Linked DNA regions of Homo sapiens. The protein of the gene in region 1 interacts with the protein of each later gene in a biochemical or structural test. Each region holds a gene or a part of one and is shown on either strand. Other genes may lie near its edges.

Region 1 (3,500 bases):
CCCTTATAAGAAAGCTCAAAGTCAACCACGTATTAAATTTATTATATATATATATATTCTTACTTTACACAATTATAATTACTGTTAATATACTTTGAAATTTTTTAAACTTTTCATACTGTTTTTAAATCTATACCTTATTTGATTTATATAATATATTCAGAGAAATTGCAAGTTCATACTCTGGGGCATAAGCCTCTATGTGACGCAATTGTGTGACCTAGCTCTAGAGTCCTCTACCAGAAAGTTAGACTCTGAAATTATCACTTGAAACATGCTTTGAAAAAGTCACAGTTATCTAAAGGTCAATAAAAAGCTTATCTCAAAACATTATTACATAGAAAAAAGTAAGTAGTAATTGGAATGCTGAAGTGATAGAAAATATTCATGGGTTGAGAATTTTGATATACATTAGAGGACAGCAGAGTTGAAGGAATAGTTTTGGGTTCTATGAAACTACTAGTCAGTCTAAAAATAAGAAACAAATGAATAAAATTCAAGATATGAATACAGAAGAATTTCATTCTACAGTTACCAATAAAATATCATGTTCCAATTACATTTGATTTTGGATATTGTGTCCCAAGCATAAATCAATCTGGCCACAAATAACTGAAATCGAGTTTATATATTAAAATCCTTAAGTTCTTAGAAAAAAGATCTTAGGTTAATCGAAAGGTAACATTGATAAGTTTCTGTTTATATTTCTGAAATGTATGCTTTTAGGTAATTTATGTTTAATATAAGTGGATGTTATAGGGAGAAAATGTTTGTTTCATAGGAAACAATTTCTTTAGCAACTCCTTATTACAAGTGGAAGTGGTGGCATCCAGAGAATATGTTATGAGAAAATGTATATTCATACTTTTACTTTAAAATGTTACATATTTTAATTTACTCTAATTTCATTTAAAAACGAAAGCATATATTATGAATAGGTAATTTAATCAAACTCTTTTTTGGAGGAAGGCTAATATGTTTTTATTATACTATAGCTGTAGATCTGGCTTCAAGAATTTTGAGGCCGGGCGCGATGGTTCACGCCTGTAATCCCAGCACTTTGGGAGGCCGAGGCAGGCGGATCACGAGATCAGGAGATTGAGACAATCCTGGCTAACATGGTGAAACCTCATCTCTACTAAAAATACAAAAATTAACCGGGCTTGGTGGCGGGCGCCTGTAGTCCCAGCTACTTGGGAGGCTGAGGCAGCAGAATGGTGTGAACCCGGGAGGCGGAGCTTGCAGTGAGCTGAGATGGCACCACTGCACTCCAGCCTGGGGGACAGTGTGAGATTCCATCTCAAAAAAAAAAAAAAAAAAAAATTTTGAGTGCATTAGCCTTTTTCATATGTGTTATTATTACATAAACATTAAAATTACCCTTCCTCTGTAATTAAAATGAAAAACCCACACACATTACAAAGTAAGGAGCTATATCTTTATTCTTAAAATGTATGTATTTGCTTATAGTAACTTAGGATAAAAAGTATCTTGAAATTACTGTATTCTTGTAAATGTTACTTGGAGTATTATGGGAAGAAAGTCAGCTAGTTGGATTAATTTCCTGGGATGTTTTTTCAACTCACTGATATTTATCATAACTGAACATAATGAAATGAGACATAAAAATTAGATTGCAGCTTTTATAGGTTTAATATCCATCAATGCTTAGAAAGCTGGTTAGACATAAAATGAATATTTATTCTAGGTTTTCAACGTTGACTTCAGTAATAGCAGGGGGCAAAAAAAAAGAATGTGCTTAAGGAGAAAATCTCTGGTTATTTTATAAACATACCACTCCGTTCACTGATAGCAGCTGGTCTCCTCTTTTGAGGCCTCCGTGTCTTTCAGCCACCCCTCCAGGAATTATGCGAGAGATATAAATGGGGGAATTTTGCTCCTTTCCTCCCATCACATTAAAACCAAGGCCTTCATCAGTCTTTGGCAGTTCAACTACTCGAGGGTGGGAGTGGCCTTCACTAGCTGCAAAAGCTGCAACTGTTGCCTGAAAAAAAAAAAAAAAGATGGTCTTTTGGTAATAAAATGAGGGAAATAAAGGCTAATCATATGCTTTGCAGTGGGTAGCTCAGGCAACTTCTCATATTTTTATAGTATTCTCCTGTGAAAGAAAGAACACAAAAAGCAGAGGACTTTCTTCATTTAGATGCCATCTAGGATTTCTTTCTTTGGTAAAGTCCCACTCATCTATTTCCAGCTTCCTAGGGCTTATCTGTTATGACAGAATTTTCCTGTCTTCATAAAAATCCTTTCCAGTTACCTTGGTTAGCTGCAATTCTTCCTATTCCTGGAGTCCAAATAACTTTGTTATATGTACTATCTACTATTATAATTATTTTATACATGTGTTGACTATGAGCACCTTAAGAGCAGAGATGGCGTCTTGCACTCTTTTGTATGACACAGAGTCTAATCTGGTGCTTGCACATAAAAGTTCATAAGTATTTTTTTAATAAATTGAAGAGCACTTGTATGTATACATACTTTTGAATACATATGTAATCTTGCTATTGCCAACCCAAAAGCTTAGCAAATTTAACTTTTTTAAAAAATTAAGGATGCCTTAAAGAGAATGAAAACTAAAATAAAATAATAGATTCAAACAGATTATTGTTAGCTTATACCAATATACCATATTATTATTCCATACTGAGAAATCTTATCTGGAACAGGATTTTTCTTCCTATATTATACATTAATATTTCAATTATTATAACAAAATAGGCAATATGAAGTCAATGATTTTATACCTAGATATACAAAACATCATTTAATATGGACATAATTTGTTTTAAAATTCATGTACTGATTTCATTAAATGAGTTCAAGAAAACAACTTACCATTAGTTCCCACTAACCCCATAGAAATAAAATAACAGCACTTAGGTAGTTTCTATCAAGAAATGATTCTGTGCCTGCTTATTTTTCACTTTTATTAATTCACCTTGATCACAGTTGATTAGATGCCTGCTATAAAGTGACTTACTCAACACTGTGAAAATATTTATTCCCAACGACTGTACCTTCTTTTCCACACACAGCATTATCACATCAATTTAGCATTATGCTACTGTCTGCATTTAGTGAAAGATAGTGAATGACATGAAAACAATGGCTTGTTTTTAGCTACATGCATTTGCTCATGCAAACCTCATTGTCATGCATAGATTTTAATGGCTGACATGGATGCAATGCAGACAGCCCAGAAACAACCAGAAAATACTGTGCTATTGCAACATTATGCTGCTATCCTGCTGTTCTACATGAATAAGAAATGAGAATGGTAAAACACTACACAATTCACTTTCCCCTTAATTAAACCACGTAGGGATCATTTTTCTGTGTGTGTTCCACTTCAGTACAAGCAAAGCATGACATGATGATAATAACACCCTCTTTTTTTCCCTGAGTTTAAACAAAACAAAACAAAACAAAAAAACCTTACAAATCTACAGTGTTCAGTTACAGAGTAAAAACTAAAA
Region 2 (3,279 bases), on another chromosome or scaffold:
AAAAGTTATGAATTCAGTTCCTCAGCCATACTAGCCACATCACCGATGTTCAATAACCACATATGTCCAGTGGCTATTGGACACTGTCATATTGGACAGTGCAGACAGAGAAATTTCCTTCTCTGCAGAACGTTCTACCTGACAGCACTGCTCTGGAGCTTCAACCCCATCCTTGGCCTTCCTGTTCTTATCCTTCTTGACTTAGAACTAAACTCTTTCAAATTTTTATAGTCTCCCTTCCACCATCCTGGTTCCTTAGGCTATCTATTTCTGTCTCTACCTTTTTTTTTTTTTTTTTTAAGAGATAGGGTCTTGCTTTGTTGCCCAGGTTGGAGTGCAGTGGTACAACTGCAGCCTCCAACTCTGGGGCTCAAGCGATCCTCCTGCCTCAGCCTCTTGAATCACTGGAACTACAGGCATGTGCCACCATGGCCAGCTAGTTAAAAAAAAATATATATATATATATATACACACACACACACACACACACACACACACATATTTATATATGCACATATATATGTATGTGTGTATATATGTATATAGACATACATATATGTGTGTGTGTGCACGTATATATATATATATATATACACACACACATATATGTGTATATATGGCCAGGTGCACTGGCTCACACCTGTCATCTCAGCACTTCGGGAGGCCAAGGCAGGTGGACCACCTGAGGTTAGGAGTTCAAGACCAGCCTGGCCAACATGGCGAAAACCCATCTCTACTAAAAATACAAAAATTAGCTGGGTATGGTGGTGCGTGCCTGTAATCCCAGCTACTCAGTAGGCTGAAGCAGGATAATCACTTGAACCCAGGAGGTGGAGGTTGCGGTGAGCTGAGATCTCACCACTGCACTCCAGCCTGGGCAACAGCGGGACTCCATCTCAAAAAAACAAACAAACAAAAAACCACATATTTAAGCTTTTATTTCTTAATTTCCCCTTCACCAAATAGAGTTACAATATTTTATATTTTAACCTTTTAATTCCATTTTTCCATGATTTCCATGAATTCTTTGAAGTTCTCTCACATTTTATTTAAAATTTTTGTGGCTTTTAGTGGTAGAGTAGTCTGCTATAATGCTGAAAATAGAAGATGTCTTTTATCTTAGTCTTCATCTTAACACAGCATTGATCATTTACTCAAGATATCTCCATTTGTTGTCTCTTTTTGTTCCCGAGATGGAGTCTTGCTCTGTCACCCAGGCTGGAGTGCAGTGGCATGATCTCGGCTCACTGCAACCTCCGTCTCCTGGGTTCAAGCAATTCTGCCTCAGCCTCCCAAGTAGCTGGGACTACAGGCATGCACCACCATGCCTGGCTAATTTTTATATTTTTAGTAGAGATGGGGTTTCACCATGTTGGCCAGGCTGGTCTCGAACTCCTGACCTTGTGATCCACCCACCTCGGCCTCCCAAAGTGCTGGGATTACAGGTGTGAGCCACCGCGCCCGGCCACTTGTTCTTTTTTTTAAAGGGACAAGGTCTTGCTCTGTCGCCCAGGCTGGAGGGCAGTGGTGTGATCATAGCTCACTGCACCCTTGACCTCCTGGGCTCAAGTGATCTTCCTGCCTCACCCTCCCAAGTCAGTGGGGCTTCAGGCTCATGCCATCATGCCTGGCTAATTTTAATTTTTTTTTGGTAAACACGAGGTCTTGCTATGTCGCCCATGATGAGTCTCGAACTCCTGGGCTCAAAAGACCCTCCTGTCTCGGCTTCCCAAAGCACTGGAATTACAGGCGTGAACTACCACGTCCATCCCTCGTTTGTTCTTATTCGTGTCAGTTGTCTATCTTTTACTTCACTGAAGGTCTTGGGTTGGGCCTGGGTTTTGTGTTGGAACTTCCTTTCTCTAAACCTTAGTTTTTTTTTTCACCCATTAATGGGCTACATGATTGCTGAGATGTCTTCTAGGTGCTGACCATGGGTCTGTGATTTTATACATGTATTTGTACTTCTTGTCCTTTGACGCATCCTGTCTGTAATCTCTCTCTGTAATACTCTAGATTGGGGGGCAGAATGAGGGAGGGCAGCTCTGGAGCTAGAGGGACCTGACCTCTAGGGCGTGGAGCTCTGGACTTTCTCTGACCTGACCCAAACGTTGGCTGTTCCCTAGGTACCATCTGCCTCATTCAAGAAATGGTTTGCCCTTGCTGGCACTTGTTGTCCACTTCCCAGAGTATGGAGGAGGACCACGGGAGCCTGTACCTGGACAATCTGGAGAGTTTGGGAGGAGAACCGAGCTCAGTACAAAAGGAGACACAGGTGACAGCAGAAACAGTCATCTAGCCCAGGACATGGCTTCTTTACCCTTCTTCAAGCCATGTGAGTGTACACATGTAGCTGTTTGTAGTCCTCCCCACCCTCTCTGCCAGTATCTGTGCCTTTGAGGAGCTTCTTGCGTGTCAGATCAACTCTCCACCTCCCCATACTCACAGTGATTCTATCTTGCTTGTATGTGAAATTTGCTAAAAGTCCTTTCAACTCTTCTGAGCTTCCTAAGTGACGTTTTTGCAGGTATTTTCAATAAAAAGAAGGGCTACTTTGTTCATCCATATCTCAAAAACCAAGTCCGCAGGGCAGGAGGGGAGGGAGGAATATTACAAGATAACCAAGTGAAATGGGATTTTGTGAAACAGAAACCGTACAGAATACAGAATATACTCGGGGGAATGACAACTATTTGGGCTGGTGGCACAGGGGTAAAAGAATTTACCAAGACGGTTGTAGATAAAGAAAGGCAGATTTATTAAAGGAAGTATAAAAGTACATTGCCGGGCTGGGCGTGGTGGCTCGTGCCTATAATCCCAGCACTTTGGGAGGCCGAGGCGGGTGGATCACCTGAGGTCAGGAGTTCAAGACCAGCTTTATCAACATGGAGAAACCCCGTCTCTACTAAAAATACAAAATTAGCCGGGTGTAGTGGTGCATGCCTGCAATCCCAGCTACTCGGGAGGCTGAGGCAGGAGAACTGCTTGAACCCAGGAGGTGGAGGTTGCAGTGAGCCGAGATCACGCCATTGCACTCCAGCCTGGGAAACAAGAGCAAAACTCCGTCTCAAAAAAAAAAAAAGTACATTGCCAGGGAGCAACAGGCAGGACCAGCAGAAGAGGAGCTGACTGAAAGGAAACAAAGACTTGTTGGAGATTTGATGGCATAGTGTTTATGCTGTATGCTGAAGAGGGCTTTGTGCAGTACTGATAATGCCAGTGTTGCAGTGAGCTAACTTGCAGGTGTCTGGTGATAGCTTGGGCGCAGGAAGATTGTGA
Region 3 (3,500 bases), on another chromosome or scaffold:
GCGGCGGCCCCGGGTGAGCAGGCAGATCTCTGCACGTGGCGCGCAGGGGGGGGTTGCTGGACGAGGCGGGCGCCGCGGCCCTCCCCGCCCAGGCACACGGCCCGGCCTCTGCACCTTGGCCAGCGTGGGCGCTTCCCACCCAGGCTCTCCCTGGTGCCGGCCCCGGCCCCATCCCCGGCCCCATCCCCGGCCCCATCCCCGGCCCCATCCCCATCCCCGGCCCCATCCCCATCCCCATCCCCGGCCCCATCCCCATCCCCATCCCCATCCCCGGCCCCATCCCCATCCCCATCCCCATCCCCGGCCCCGGCCCCGGCCCCGGCCCCCTGGCTCTGCACACCGCGGGGGTCGCGTGCCCCCTCCCCCTCCAGGCGCGCCCCCCTCAAGCTCACCCCCGAAGTAGGAGCCATCGGACAGCTTCATCTCCTTGTTGCCCTTAGTGAGCACGCTGACCACGCCGTGCTGGATGAAGTACATCTTCTTCCCGATGGTGCCTTCGCGGATGATGTAGTCACCCGGCTGGAAGACCTCGAACTTGAGCTTGGTCAGCATGGCCGTGACGAAGTTGGGGTCGGCGTTGGCGAACAGCGGCATGGAGGCCACCAGCTTCCGGCAGTTGAAGTTGACGATCTCCTGCAGGGGGGAGGCAGGGCTGGGTCCGCTGCGGACCCCACTCCCGCTTCCCCCTCGCCCTGCCTCTGGGACCGGCTCACCTCTCGGACCCCAGTTTCCTCGTCTGAGAGACGGGCTCAGCCCCGTAGCCGGAACCGAGCTGCTGCCGCCAAGGACGGGAGAAAGAAAAAACGCTCAGTGCCCCTTCGCCGTTTGACACCGTATTGGCGACATCTGCCAATACAATCGGACCAGGAGGGGCGGCTGTAGACAAGAGCGGTGGAAAGGAGGCCGGGTGCGGGGGCTCACGCGTGTGATCTCAGCATTTGCGGAGGCCGAGGCGGGAGGATCGCTTGAGCCCAGGAGTTCTAGACCAGCCTGGGCAACACGGTAAGACCCCCGTCTCTACCGGAAAAAAAAAAAACAGCCAGGCGTGGTGGTGCAGGAAGTCGAGGCTGCAGTGAGCCGTGATCCCCACACCACTGCCCTCCAGCCTGAGCGCAGAACAAGACCCTGACTCAAAAAAAAAAAAAAAGAAAATGGGGGAAAAATAAGGCCGGGCGTGGTGGCTCACACCTGTAATCCCAGCACTCTGGGAGGCCAAGGTGGGTGGATCGCCTGATGTCAGGAGTTCGAGACCAGCCTGGCCAACATGGTGAAACCCCATCTCTACTAAAAATACAAAAAATTAGCTGGGTGTGGTGGCGGGTGCCTGTAATCCCAGCTACTCGGGAGGCTGAGGCACGAGTCTCTTGAACCCGGGAGGAGGAGGTTACAGTGAACCAAGATCACACAACTGCACTGGAGCCCGGGTGACAGAGCGAGACTCCATCTCTCTCTCACACACACACACACACACACACACACACACACACCAGTGGAAAGCTACATTCGGTCAGACTATCAGGTGATTTTTGAAAAATCAACATGAAAACCAAGGGTCTGGAGATGAATCAATGGTGTGGGAAGTCAGGGCAATTCCCCTTAGCAAAGGCAGCTTCTAAGGACGGCAGGAACGTTCCAGCTTCGTTCTGTGTGGTGGTTACACCACGTTCCCTTTAGGGACCAGCTATCGAGCTGTGCCCTTATGACCTGGGGCACTTTTTGGTACTTTTTTTTTTTTTGAGACGGAGTCTCGCTCTGTTGTCCAGGCTGGAGTGCAGTGGCACAATCTCGGCTCACTGCAACCGCCGCCTCCTGGGTTCAAGCGATTCTCCTGTCTCAGCCTCCAGAGTAGCTGGGATTACAGGCGCCCACCACCACGCCCGGCTAATTTTGTATTTTTAGTGGAGACGGGGCTTCACCATGTTGGCCAGGCTGGTCTCGAACTCCTGACCTCAGGTGATCTGCCCGTCTCGGCCTCTGAAAGTGCTGGGATTACAGGCGTGAGCCACCACGCCTGGCCATATGTGGGTTTAAAGATTTGACTTTGCAACTCCTAAACACCTAAATAATGACTAAGTAGCGTGGGTTGCCAGGGGCTGGGGACGGGGAGTGAGCTGGTGACTAACACCCCAGGTCTCCTTTTGGGCCCATGAGAATGTTCTGGAGTGAGGCTGTGGTATCGGGTGCAGCACTCTGTTAATACTAAAAGCCACCGCATTTTATGCATTTTGTGGTCTGAGTGTTATATCTCTACAAATGAATGAATGGAAACCGTAGTCATCAAATGCAATTAAACATTCTTGGCGAAGCGAACCGCAGTGTGTGCCTCCTGGGAGCAACGGGTGTACACGCCCCCCCAGAGGCATTCCCGGGGCCCGAGGTCCCTAGTGTCAGGCCCGTCCTGCCCGCCTCCTCGCCCAGCTCCTCCAGCCCCTCCTCGGGGCCTCTGCCCGAGCCAGGTGCTACACCGGGGACACCCTGCCTGGCTCACACACGGCCTTGCTGATGTCGCCTCCCCGTCCTCGTCCCTCCCCGCTTCCCAGAGCTGCTCTCTGCTGCCTGCGTGATCACGGCCGCCATCCCTAGGCCCCGCTTCCTGAGGGTGGGACCTTCAAGCACACGGCAGGGCACGCAGTCGGCGCTCAATAACTGTTTGATGTGTGTTGTGGGTTGAACTACATCTCCCAGAAAGACAGGCTGACATCCTGACCCCCGGTTCCTGTGAATAGGACCTTATGTGGAAATAGGGTCTCTGCAGACATGGCCCAGTTAAGGCGAGGCCACGAGGAACCGGGTGGGCCCTGATCCAACGACGGATGAATTTACAAGAAGAGACAGAGACACACAGGGGAGAAGGCTGTGAGCAGATGGAGGCAGAGATCAGGGAGATCAATCTGCAAGCCAAGGGCGCCTGGAGCCCCAGACGCCGGAAGAGGCAGGAAGGATCCTCCCCAGGGGCTCCGGGGGGGTAGCACGGCCCGGCCCACGCCTTGATGTTGGGCTTCCGGCCTCCAGGACGGTGGGAGGCCGAATCTCCGCTGTTCAAGCCACTCAGCCTGTGGGTATTTGTTCCCGCAACCCTGGGAAACTTGCCCAGGGTCACTCAGGCTACCGGAACAGAGCTGGGAGTTAAACCCGCTCCAATCAGCCTCAGTGCCCCCAGGACCTGGTGCTCAGCGGGGCCTCTGCGGCTCCTCCCTCCCCACCCCCTGCCCTGCTTCTGCCCCGCCCTGTCAGGCACAGACCCAGGCAGTTCTGCTAAGGGGGCAGCGGGAAGCAAGGCGGGGGTGGCGGGGGTCCTGGGGGTGCAGAGGCTCACGGGGCGGGGAGGGGAGGGTGTGTACGCAGGTCTAGCTCGAGTCCCTCCTGCTGCAGCCTAGGCACCTCGCCTCCCTCAGGGACCGGCTCCTGGGCTCCAGGAGAGGGAGGCCGGCCCTGTACCGGAGGCTGCCTCCCGCCCGCCCGGCGCCCGCCTCACCTCCCGCAGGGGCCCGTTGAGCTCG
Region 4 (3,500 bases), on another chromosome or scaffold:
CTCTGAAGTTGTTATCATGGAAGGTTCAAAATTACAAGTGTATGGTGCACACAGAGATATGAAGAGACACACACACACACAGAGAGAGAGAGAGAGAGAGAGAGAGAGAGAGACAGAGACACAGAGAGAGAGAGATCAGCCAGTGATTCTGAATAGAAAATGAAGTTAGGTAATGAGGAGGGATTAAAGAGTAAAGTCTCTGAGGAGGAACAAGGGCATGGTTCCTGGAATAAATGAATGTATCAGTATTAGTTAAAAATGACACATTTTCCTTGTGACAGATACTAAATGTTTGTAGGTTTGTAGATGGTTTGGAGGCCAAACCGTAAAGAAATTCTTATTTGCATGGAGGTATTTTTTCTTTTACCTTTCTTCTTCTGTGTCATAGAAGCCAAGTTCAGTGGTGAGAGTGAGGTAAGAGATGGAAAGAGAATTTTGAGAAAATGAAGAATATTTGAAATAGCCTCTCTTGATGATAATTACAAAGAGAACTTACAAAAGAAATATAAAAGTGTGTGGTGCTTTATATATAATGAGAAATATAAAATGATTGTTGATTGTGTTTTTGTAATATCTTAGATTGAGGTTTTTTTGGACACAGAGTCTTTTTCTGTTGCCCAGGCTGTTCTCAAACTCCTGGCTCAAGCAATTCTTCCACCTCAGCCTCTGGAATAGGTAGTATTATAGACATATGCCACCACAGTAGGCTAATATCTTACTTTTTAAAAAATTCACAACTTAGAACTGTTGTCCTGTATACCTAGTCATACCTAGTTTGTAAAATGCAGCATGTTTGAAATTTTCTTTAAACTTTTAATAAAAATTTAAATGCATTGGTATTTATCATTATTTTTTATTTTAGAAATAAATTAATGATATTTCAAATTTGTTTATACTTACCCATGCTGGCAATTATGCTATGTACAGGTAATCTGGAAGGTCCATGATAAAACGACCTGGACACATTGCTTTTTCTCTGCTGGTCTTGGTTTTTAAATGCTGAATTCTCTTCTTTGGTAATATTAATATAAAAGCATATGTCTGTAGAATTCATAATGTATCGAGGACCTGGATTCAGCAAAATGTTTTTATTATCCTCCCTCCTAACACCAATCAAGCAGACGCCAAACCTTAATTTAAAAAAAAAGAGAGTTTGTAAGAAAATTAGTAAATTATTGTAAGGCTGAGGAAAATAAAAGCTTTAAATAATAGCATTTTAAAGCTTGAAATGATCCTAGAAGTTCAAGATCCTCATTTTTACAGGAAAATAAACTATGTGCTTAGTGTGTTGTAAAACCAATTTAGCTGATTATGACCACTATAAATTTACATTTTAATGAAAATGAATGGAAGAACATAAGAAACATGAGTGCATGTATACACTAAGGGTAACATTATTTTGCGAATTTTTACAACAATTTTACTTTGGTCAAAAAACATAAACAGCATATCTTACTTTGGTTAAAAAAAATAAATAAAAAGCTTAAAACTATTGGCCAAAGGAAAGAAACTTACCCATGGTCACCTGAAAGAGAACCAGGGTCCCTGAATTTATCACAGTTGGTTTACTTTAAATTTTAGAAAAAATATATATATTTAAATAGTCTTAAATAGGTATGTACTTAGTCAGAAAAAAAAAGTAAAGTAGAATACAGAAGCTCCTTGACTTATAATAGAGTTATGTCCTGATAAACCCAGCATAAGTTGAAAATATTGTTAAATAAAAAATGCTTTTAATACAGCTAGCCTAACAAATATCATAGTTTTAACCTAGCCAACCTTAAACATACTCATAACACTTACATTGCCTACAGTTGGGCAAAATCATCTAATACCAAGCCTGTTTTATAATAAAGTGTTAAATATCTTATGTAATTTATTGAATATTCTACTGAAAGTGAAAAATAAAATGATTGTATGGATACTGGAAGTATGGTTTCTACTGAATGGCTATTGTTTTGTACCATCATGGTAAAAAAATAGTAAGTCAAAGCATCATAAGTTGGGGGTTCCTGTACATTACATAATAGATTAGTTAGTAGACTATATACGTATATTGTAAATCCTCCAAAATGTGTCACATTAAAACATTTAATACAGATAATATGTTATTTTCATTATATACATACATTTTTACTTCTTAAGTAAATCCTTTTTTTTTCCAAAAAGGAAAAGAAAAAAAAAGTTCTATGTTTGAATTGGAAGGTAGTTTTATTTATTTTTTAACTTATTTCTCAGGCCAAAACAAGGGCCACCATCAGAGATTTTTTTTTCAAATGTACAGTTTTTAGAAATATTAGTGTTACTTTGTTTTAGTTCCTAATCAACATCTTAAAATTCAGATCTGTGAAGAAGATTTTCATATGTATGTAAATTCTTAATGGATTAAAATATTTTAAAAAGACTTTAAAAGTGGCTAAATGAAATATTCCTACTAAATTATAATTTACTCCTGACTGTCTTATAGAGACCATACAGACACCAGGGTTCAAATGTTTCAACATTGGGGAATATTGTGACAAAAATTCCGGAATGCCTAAACACATGAACACAATATGCATTCTATTTTTGAAAACTATTTTCACATGATATGCTTGACTGATTGATATTTTAATTTTTCTCTGAGGCAGAAACATACTTTTTGTGTGCATGGAAAGAGGCATATGTAAAACTCTTTCCTTCATATTCAGCAAAAAATGTACTTTCTTCCAAAACAATGTGGTAGACTTCATTCCCGGAGCATCTACCGTACATCTTCTGCCATTGTTCTGGCGATTGCTGGCCTTCTCTGCAACACAGGCACACACACATACACACACACAAAAAGAAAACACAGTGAATGTGGTTAAAAAACAGTTGTTATAGAACTGTTTCTCAACTGTGTAAGAACTGGCAAGCACAATCCAAAGGAGCATCTGAGTAATGCTTTGAAGTCTGAAGATGACATTATATGCAAGAGTTTCTAAAAAATTTTGAATACTATATATATATATATATATATATATATGTATATATATATATATGCTTGAGAAATGACAGTTTTGTAGAAAGTGGGAGTTTTCCAAGATCCAGCTAATGAAAAGCTTTACTCTCACAATGAATCAATGAGATACAGGATTTTAGTCTCTCTTTATATACATATCCTATCATGTATATCTTCTAAAATTTGTTGTACAGTCTCCATAATATGGCCAACGTTATCTTACCTATGATACCTGCGTGGCTGCTGTAGGTATTTTATTTTGCTTTATACTTAAAATTACAAATTTATCTCAATTTATCTTTGATTTTATAGAAAATATACCTTTAGTTTTTGTTCATATCGTAGCAATAACTTTCTTCCAATTGTATAGCAGTCACGAAAAGACACTTTTCTTATTTTAAATGTAAGGATCTCTCCAACTAACTGAATATTCTTGTAACCACAAAATTCATGTTGGAATCCTAATCCCATTATGATGGTATTTGGGAGTGTGGCCTTTGAGAGGCAATTAGGTTAT

The links.
Region 2: the proteins of LIN7A (region 1) and TMEM225B interact in a test that uses a peptide from one of them, tested with the Homo sapiens proteins (one large-scale study listed by IntAct).
Region 3: the proteins of LIN7A (region 1) and HCN2 interact in a test that uses a peptide from one of them, tested with the Homo sapiens proteins (one large-scale study listed by IntAct).
Region 4: the proteins of LIN7A (region 1) and KCNT2 interact in a test that uses a peptide from one of them, tested with the Homo sapiens proteins (one large-scale study listed by IntAct).

Annotation. Positions count from the first base shown.
Region 1 is NC_000012.12:80,843,935-80,847,434, forward strand, and holds part of LIN7A (protein lin-7 homolog A), read right to left. Parts: intron 2,006-3,500; coding exon 1,796-2,005; intron 1-1,795. UniProt on the Homo sapiens protein: Plays a role in establishing and maintaining the asymmetric distribution of channels and receptors at the plasma membrane of polarized cells.
Region 2 is NC_000007.14:99,608,267-99,611,545, forward strand, and holds the end of TMEM225B (transmembrane protein 225B), read left to right. Parts: intron 1-2,126; coding exon 2,127-2,299; 3' UTR 2,300-2,779; downstream 2,780-3,279.
Region 3 is NC_000019.10:610,381-613,880, reverse strand, and holds part of HCN2 (potassium/sodium hyperpolarization-activated cyclic nucleotide-gated channel 2), read right to left. Parts: coding exon 3,476-3,500; exon of another isoform or gene 2,727-3,475; intron 1,003-2,726; exon of another isoform or gene 634-1,002; coding exon 393-633; intron 30-392; coding exon 1-29. UniProt on the Homo sapiens protein: Hyperpolarization-activated ion channel that is permeable to sodium and potassium ions. Displays lower selectivity for K(+) over Na(+) ions. Contributes to the native pacemaker currents in heart (If) and in neurons (Ih).
Region 4 is NC_000001.11:196,339,441-196,342,940, forward strand, and holds part of KCNT2 (potassium channel subfamily T member 2), read right to left. Parts: intron 2,789-3,500; coding exon 2,639-2,788; intron 1,131-2,638; coding exon 901-1,130; intron 1-900. UniProt on the Homo sapiens protein: Sodium-activated and chloride-activated potassium channel. Produces rapidly activating outward rectifier K(+) currents. Contributes to regulate neuronal excitability.